Linked DNA regions of Homo sapiens: region 1 is linked to region 2. Evidence: fine-mapped expression QTL. A gene starts in region 2. The other region holds a variant in brackets. All regions are shown on one strand. Distances are from middle to middle. Region 1 overlaps DAPP1 (dual adaptor of phosphotyrosine and 3-phosphoinositides 1). Region 2 holds the start of LAMTOR3 (late endosomal/lysosomal adaptor, MAPK and MTOR activator 3).

The links. PIP is the estimated chance that this variant, and not a neighbour inherited with it, causes the effect.
Region 1: its variant is fine-mapped to the expression of LAMTOR3 in fibroblasts (GTEx, PIP 0.96).

The regions. Positions count from the first base shown.
Region 1 is chr4:99,830,672-99,835,075 of GRCh38, reverse strand. All of the region lies in intron 1 of DAPP1 (dual adaptor of phosphotyrosine and 3-phosphoinositides 1), which reads right to left. Among named protein-coding and RNA genes, the nearest start is that of DAPP1, 16 kb to the right of the region's middle. The variant T/C (reference allele first, on the strand shown) is at 2,706.
Region 2 is chr4:99,892,038-99,896,441 of GRCh38, reverse strand. LAMTOR3 (late endosomal/lysosomal adaptor, MAPK and MTOR activator 3) reads left to right here and starts at 2,015. Exons shown (of 7, transcript NM_021970.4): 1 at 2,015-2,107; 2 at 2,442-2,487. The coding sequence starts at 2,479. DNAJB14 (DnaJ heat shock protein family (Hsp40) member B14) reads left to right here. Exons shown (of 8, transcript NM_001031723.4): 8 at 1-194. RefSeq lists a silencer at 1,827-1,916.

The sequences.
Region 1 (4,404 bases), 61 kb after region 2:
GATCATGCCATTGCACTCCAGCCTGGGTAACAGAGTGCAATTCCATCTCAAAAAAAAAAAAAATGAGGTCATTAGGGTGGGCCCTAATTCAATATGACTGGTGTCCTCTTGTAAAAAGGGAAAATCAGGAGATAGATTTGCCTACAGGGAGAACAGCGCATGAACATGACAGTCACTTCCAAGCCACAGGAAGAGGCCTGGAACAGATTCTCCCTCACGGCCCTCGGAAGGAACCAATCCTGTTGACACCTTGATTTCCGACTTTGAGCCTTCAGAACTGTGAGGCAATCGATTTCTTATAGTCAGCTGCCCAGGCTGTGGTTCTTTGTTATAGCAGCCCTAGCAAACTAATACAGTGTTGCTTTGTAATCAGAATTGGTTTTTAAAGTCCAAGTCAAAATACCATAAGAATAGGCTTTGACCAATTTCCTTCTTTTTTTGGTCTCTCACACTCTTTTTCAAGTGTGGTACCTTTTCACGGCGAAACCTCTGTGCTATAATACTAAAGGCTATTGTCATGAGTGAAACGAAGCTGGATGGAAGGAATTATAGTATGAAGTAAATGCCACCAAGTACTGTTTCAGCCTGACAAGTATCTGAAGAGCTAGGGAATGCTCAAGGAGATTCAAAATGATATTTGTGTTTTAGAAAAGGTAATATATATCTATGGTAAAAAAAAAAAAATTCAAATTGTCCAAAAGGAGACATAGCAAAACATGTTTTCTTCACCCTGGGCCCTCAGGCTCCCTGTTCCTTTCCTAGAGGACACCTTGGTAACCATTTTCCTGTGCTTCCTCTTAAGAGATAGTCTACACACTTAGAGGCATTGGATGTGTACCTCCACTCCTGATTCTACAAACATACGAGCATTATTTATTATTTTTATTTTCTAGGCATATTGCTCTGCACCATCTTTCTTTTCTCCAATAACAGGTCATTCACATTCTTTTAAACGATGTCATAGAGGCATGAAATGTGATGATTAGGATTGTGGCCCCGGGGGTTGCTTTGCCTGGGTCCCAATCCAGGTGGTACCTCTTACTAGCTGTATGGCCTTGGACATGTTACTTAACCAATCTGAGCTTTGGTTCCTCATGTTTAAAATAGTATGACTAATAGGCATACGGCATAGGCCAGTTGTGAGTCCTGCACACATTAACATGGATGAGATGTGCTCCATAAAGCCTGGCAACTAAAGCAGTGCTTAGTATGCGTTAATTGCTACCAGGAAGCCATTGAGATCCAAAAAGCCGTAACTTTCAATTTACCCTCTGTGGCATGACTTTCTTATTGCTCAAATAGAATTTTTGTTACTTTTTATTTAGATCAGATAACAGAAAGCTAGACAGCAGAGGCAGTTGCTGACTGCTAGGGACCACAGTTTAGGTCAGTGAAGATGAAAGAGAGACAGGCAATTATACAAATAATGTCAGTGTGATGAACTAAATGCTATTAAAGAGGTGTGTATAGTGTAAAAAAGCTTTGAGGAATAGCCCTATTCTGGCATTAAGGGATCTTGTTGTCATGAACCACACTGATATCCACTGAGACATCCCTGTGGCATAAACTTTTAGCCTGAGTAATAAAGAGTAAACCTAAGTGCACCTGTGGAAGGAAGTTTTTACATAGGTCTCCAAGATACCTATTTTCTAAATCTGCATTTCCTAATGCATGTTTCTTAGCATATTTTATCTTTGGGGCAGAGATGCTTTCATCCTATATTAGAAATATATTTGCTAGCTGAAAGCAATGGCATGAAACACATTTTATAAGAATAAACACAGAGCTATTTACCCAAAGCAGCTCCATTCATTGAACTGATTCCCAGACAAGTTCAAATCTGTTCACTACAAAATGCTTTCAAAGAACAATTGGAAGAATTATAAGTGAAACAATAATAAAGTTCAAGTTCAACTGAAGCCAAAATTCTAATTCTTTTTGATAGGTGAAATTTCCACAAGGTTATAAAAACTTAGATATATTTTGCCAATAATTAACTTTATAATAAACATTTCAGCATAAGTTTCAGTTCGAGCCAGCAGATTGTTTATTTAAAGCAATACTTCATTTGTGAAATTCCAAAACATTTAAAGGATTTGGACATTCCTTTGGATTCTTTTCAATGGAATTGGAAGTTTGTGTTTAAAGCATTTATAGAATTCTTCTTACATCTAATTATATAGCCTGATAACAGTTGTTTATGTAAAGCAATATTTGATTCGCAAAATTCCAAAACATTTAAAGGATTTGGACATTCCTTTGGATTCTTTTCAATAGAATTGGAAGTTTGCGTTTAAAACATTTATAGAATTCTTTTGACGTCTAATTATAGCCTGATAACAGTTTTTACTAATAATGTTTTAATGATAATTTAAAAAACAATAACTATATACCATAAACACATAAGAAATACTTGAGTATAATGCAAGAAGAATCACACTAAGCTGCAGTCTGGAAAATTCTTGGAGACTGCAATTCCTTGGTGGCAGCTTTGCCTGAGTCAATATTGCCTTTTCAGGAGTTTACAGACTCCAGGGCCTGGGCAAGCCCAGTATAGAGCTTTCCAGGCAGCCACCTACATTCCATGATGTCAGTGGTGCAATAAGGATCCTCATTCCCCAAATAGCTTTTCCACAAAAACCTAAACTTCCCCTTTTAATTGAGTTAAGCATTCCTTTCCTGGAACATTCTGATGAGCATTTCTT[T/C]CAGGGGAGTGAATGTATATCCTAATGACATTTGTATTCTTTGTAGAAATATGTCCACCTTTGATAAGGATGATTCAAGACTGTGTCCATAAAAGTTAAAAATAGAGTTAAGTTGGTAGTTTTCCCATAATCAACCTTTTCTGCCTTCAGTCATTGCTTCAAATCTGTGCAAGGCATTGTGCTAGGCAGGTCAAAGGGAACAAAAATGGAAAAGCCTCAGACTGGGTGACAAATAACCATTAATCTAGTCAGGAGAATAAGACAAGCATATTGCAAACTATATCCAAGAGAGAATAAAGTACCCAAGGGATGTTCTAAAAAGAAAGATCGAAATCAGGTTCCCTGAATGAGCCAACATCTGTATAGGCCTTGAAATATAACCTGTTTTTTTTTTTTTAAGGTTGTGTTACCTTTTATTCTGATTATAAAGCATATATAGTAAAAGTTAAAATATATACATGTAAAGAAGATAAAGTATGTGTTTTTCAGAAGAGGAAAGATGTGTTTCAAATAAATAATCTCACTATTAATCAGAGAAATGCAGATTACAATAATAATGTGATATTTTTCTTTATCCACCAGATCGGTTATAATGAAAGGATTGGATAGTATTAAGTATTGGAGAATTTGGGCAATGGCTATTACTGTCCATTGTTGATAAGGGTCTAAGTTGGAGGGGAATTTAGCACATAGGGTGTAACTGAACCTCCACATATGACCAGCGATTCCTCTTCTAGTTTCCACCTAGTGAAACACCCATACATGAGCAGAAGAAAATATGAACAAGGGTGTTCACTGCAGAATTGTTTGTAAGAGTAAGAAATCTAGAGCCATCCTAAATGTCCATCGACATGGAGATGATAAATAAAGTGGAGTGCTAAAAGGATGAGATTATGTAAAAAGTTAACCAAAAGTGTTTGAAAAGCTGTGAGCATATTTTTGGTTGCCAGATAATGAGGGCAGGGAGTCGGGGTGCTATTGTTATTTTGTGAGAGGGTGCCAGGGATGCTTAACATCCTACAAATGATACAGTCTTGAAGAACCAAGAATTGTCTTGTTCATGATGTCAATTACACCCCACCACTGAGAATCACTGAAGATAGGTGTGTATACACACACACATCAAAGTTGATAGATCCCAACATATATTGTAAAGTTAGAAGAACTAGTTGCAGGCACCAAATGTTACCACTTGGTTTTAACACGTTCCCCTATAAAATATCAACAACAAAAATATGCTTACATATTAAGATATATAAAAACATAAAATAAGAGTTTTAAAAATATACACCAAATTCATAAGTATGATTTTCTTTGTAGAAGGAACCAGAATTTGTTCAAAGGAGACTTTAGCTTGATCAGATTTTTCTAATTTAGCTTGTTCTAATGAAAAAAATAGATTTCTATATTAGTTAGCTACAAATTTAATTAGAAAAAAAGAAAATAGCTAATTTCTTACTTAATCCAACTTCCAGAGATAACCTTATTAATAATTTGCCATATTCTTTCATTTATTCAACTACTGCTTATTGAGTACTTGGACTGGCCTAGGCACTTAGGTGAAGATTGAGAGAGAGAGAGAGAAAGAGAAAGAGAGAGAGAGAGAAAGAGAGAGTTTGGCTTTTTCCTATTAAAAGTCTGGTGGGGTTTGGATCCGCAGTTGTTCAGGGAGATATAACATGGGAGGGAATAGCAGCAG
Region 2 (4,404 bases):
AAAATTAGATTTCAAAATGAAATGTCTGATTTGTAAAATATTTAATGTTATATCAGACTTACATAAAATTTTCTGTGAGAACTCAAATGCATTTGATTTTTAATGAATGTTCTGAATGAAATATGAATTTTTGTCTTTCAGTCTCTGTAGTTTATCTCAATATATTAATAAAAAGGTCTGTTCTCACTGTAAAATGTTTGTTTTTATCATGTTTTATACTCAATATGGCCACTCTTTCATTCATTCAACTATTCAACAAGTATGTCAATGCTTGCTATATCCCAGGCAGTGAGCTGGGTGCTGGGAATTAATCACTGAATAAGAAAGACAAAAACCTTAAAGAGTTTACATCTAGCAAAGAAAATAAATATCAAGTAAATAATTATAATTATGATAAATTCTACAAAGAAAATTACAGGGTACAATGAAAGCATTTATCTAGAAGACCTAAACTATTCAGTGAGGGTCAGGGAAGGCTTCTCTGAGAGTGAGTTTAAGCCAAAATGCAAAAGATGAGATTAGTAGGATTAAGGTATGCTAGAGAAATATCTCAGGCAGAACGTGCTAAGTTGGTAAAGTGATAAAAATCTTTATGGAAGTGAAAACAAACTTGTATGATCATAGCATAAGGAATCCAGGGTAGGTGAGAGAATTAAGATAGGGGCCAGATCCCCATAAGAATGATATATAAACCATGATGCTGATATTGAACTTTATCCTAAGTCAATAAACTTGATTTTCAAGGAAGGAGTTAAATGATGTGATTTGGGTCTTTAGAACATCATTTTTGTTGCTGTGTGGAGACTGGAGGGCAAAAGAGAATGTAAGAAGAATAGGAGGTTGTTGTCAAAAGAGAGATGATCATGGCTTGGAGTAGGGTAGGAATATAGATAGGTGAATAGTTTTCAAAGATAGGAGGTAGAATCAACAGAACTCTGATTAGATTTGTGACATATGGAAGCAGCAATTGAAAACCAGGCTAAAGTTTTCTGAAAATTTGGCTATGAAAGGGAGTAGAGGAAAAACAGTGTGGTAGCTGAAAGAGGATGCGATTTCTAAAGAAGCTTTTCTTTTGAGGGTCTCGCTCTGTCACACAAGCTGGAGTTCAGTGGGGCGATCACCACTCGATGCAGCCTCAAACCCTGGGCTCAAGGGATCCTCCTGCCTCAGCCTCCCGAGTACCTGGTGCACGCCACGTTCGGATAATTCTTAATTATTATTATTATTTGTAGAGATGGGGTCCTATCTTGCCAGGCTGCTGTGGAACTCCTGGGCTCAAAGGATCGTCCCGCCTCGGACTCCCAAAGTGCTGCGACTACAGGCGTCAGCCACCGCACCCGGAAAGCCTTTTATTTTTTTCAATTATTATTTATTACATGAGACCTTACTAATTTTTAAAAATTCTGATGTAAAAGGGAACATAGAAGGTGCCCGTAATCAGTGTCTGCATGTTAAAAGTAGACGCTTGAAGTGCTCCAGAAAACCCATGGCTCCTCCCCATTCAATCTAGGTAAGGCCTTCAGTAAAGAGCACCCATGGGGAAGTCACAAGAGCCTAGGAAACAGGTCAGAAACCTGTGGACCTGGTACTTCCAATCACAGGCAATCTGGTGCTTGCTCTTCAGCTCATCACACCATCCCCTCAAATTTCTTCATCTACAAGAAAAGGTTTTAAGATAACAGACCCTGCAAAACTAATGACATTTATACACCCTCTCTGCACAAGAATGTCTTGTAACACATAACCTTGCTTGCATTTTCTGGGTTCCTTAGGGTCCAGCGATCTCGTACAAATCTACCCCACAGCTGACTTCCTTCGGCCCGTGACACAAGGCGCAGGCGCAAGACGCGGCCCGCGGTGGGCGGGGGAGGGGCGGGGCGCGTGCGGGGCGGGGGGGAGGGGAGGGGCGCGGCCGCCGGACGCGCCCTCGCAGCTTCCGCCGGGCCCCTCCGGAAATCCCGTATCGTAGGGCGACGGCGGCTTAGAAAGTGCTTCCTGGAGCGCAGACGAGGTCATGAATCATGTGACGGTGGCTTGAGGAGGAACCTGTCTTTAAAGCTGTCCCTGAAGTGACAGCGGAGAGAACCAGGCAGCCCAGAAACCCCAGGTAACTGGCGCTACTTTGCCTGGTTTTGAGGCCTAGTCCCGCAGGTGGCGCGGGTGGTGAGATTAAACAGAAGGAGAGGACCCTCTCTTCTTTTCTTTGGGCCTAGCTCTTTGGGGTGGAGGGGCAGGGATGGGGTGGGCTGAGGTAAGGTGTGCCAGCTGAGTACCTGTGGGGGTGCTGGGGCACTCCGACTCCCACTGGGCTCGCTGGGCCAAGCCCTAGAACCGCGGGGGTTTTACCTGGTTCTGACCAGGGCTGATCTCGCGTATTAAGTTGTGGGTGGGGAGGACGAGGAAGCCAAAGAGGGAAGAGTCACCGGGAGTTTCTCTTCCAGGCGTGGAGATTGATCCTGCGAGAGAAGGGGGTTCATCATGGCGGATGTGAGTGACACCCCTACATAAGAGGAAGGGGAGAGTGGGGAATTTTGAGGGGCATACTGAGCGGGGAGAGGTAGAACTTCCCAAACAGAAATTTGTTTTGATCCTCCCAGCCCCACCCATCCCAGTTAATTATTTTCTCTGATATCTGAAGTGGGAGACTAATATGAATGAATTTGCAGGATCCTGAGTTTCTGCCTCGAATGGGGGTGTAGGACACTAAGGTGCTTGAGACTGAGAAAATTAGGTTCTCCCTACTCCCCAGTCCAGCTGGGGCATAAGAGAGGCTCTGTATATTTACCATTTGAAATTCTGAATGATGGTTTGCTGCTTTTCCTGTCAGAATTTGGTCAGTAGGACATGTACCCACAATACTTTTTTCCAGTAAGTGATAACAATATCTCATTTGGTTTATTGTAGCAATTTACGATGATTTCTAACCCATGCCTCTTTAGAAACATGGTAACGTGTGTGTGTGTGTGTGTAGGAGGATAAAATGATCAGTCGGGTTTGGAGAATAGTAAGTGCTGGATGCTCAAAACAAGAGATACCTGATTAATCCATGTGAGGTCAAAATTGATACCTAAATTGTCAGTGAAATTCCTGGGATAAGAGAGTGTAATGAGACAAAATAAGATAGTCTTCTGGCCAATGCGGTTGCTTAGTCTGTAATCTCAGCACTTTGGGAGGCCGAGATGGAAGGATCACTTGAGGCCGGGAGTTCAAGATCAGCCTGGGCAACATAGCAAGACCCCGTTCTACAAAAAGAAATTTAAAAATCAGCCAGGCGCATTGATACCTCTGTAGTCACAGCTATGCTGGAAGTGAGGCGAGACGATTGCTTGAGCCCAGAAGTTGGAAGTTGCAGTGAGCCCCAGCTTAGAAAAATAAAATAGTCTTCTACTTCTTTAGTCTTAACTGTGTTTCGTGTTAAACACTTGACACACATTGTCATTTATTTTATATTCTGTAACACTGGGCTGGGCGCGGTGGCTCACGTCTGTAATCCCAGCACTTTGGGAGGCCAAGGCGGGTGGATCACCTGAGGTCAGGAGTTCGAGACCAGCCTGGCCAACATGGTAAAACGTTGTCTTTTCTAAAAATACAAAAAATTAGCTGGGCATGGTGGCAGGTGCTTGTAATCCCAGCTACTCGGGAGGTTGAGGCAGGAGAATCGTTTGAACCTGGGAGGCAGAGGTCGCAGTGAGCCGAGATCGCGCCATTGCACTCCAGCCTGGACAACAAGAGCGAAACTCCGTCTCAAAAAAAAAAAAAAATGTTGCCTCACATAGTCATATAGAATTTATTTTAGGTCCTTAAACAAAATATTTTAAAAATTACGTTATAATAATATGCCTTACACTGTTTCATTATTTGTTGAGTAGGTGAGTTCAACAAATAATGAAACAATGGAAGGCATATTTTTATAATGTGATAGTCACGTGAGACAACAGTCTTACAGAGGTCATATCACCTTACCCAAGACCATTAAGATGATGGTGGAAAGTCTATCTTTGAACATGGAAAGGTGTTTATAACGTCTTCTCAAGTGAACACAATAGCAACAGGATGTAAAACACTAGTATGAAAATTATGATGTAATTTTATGGCTAAAATGTGTTTCCCATTTCTAGGTATGCTAATCCATGCATCTTCTCAATAAACTTTTAACAACACTTTTATGATGTAGGTTCTATATTAGCCCTATTCAACAAATAATGAAATAAGCTTAGCGAAAAAAGGTTGGTTAACTTACTCCAAGTTGCGTGACTAGTAAACATCCAAATCAGACAGAGAAAGATAAAACACAGCAAGAAAGGTTATGAATGATAACTGAAGTTCCTTAAAATTTGGATAGGACAGGATCTAGAAAACAGTGGAAGGCCTATTATTACAACATTATTTTTTAATGCTCTCTTT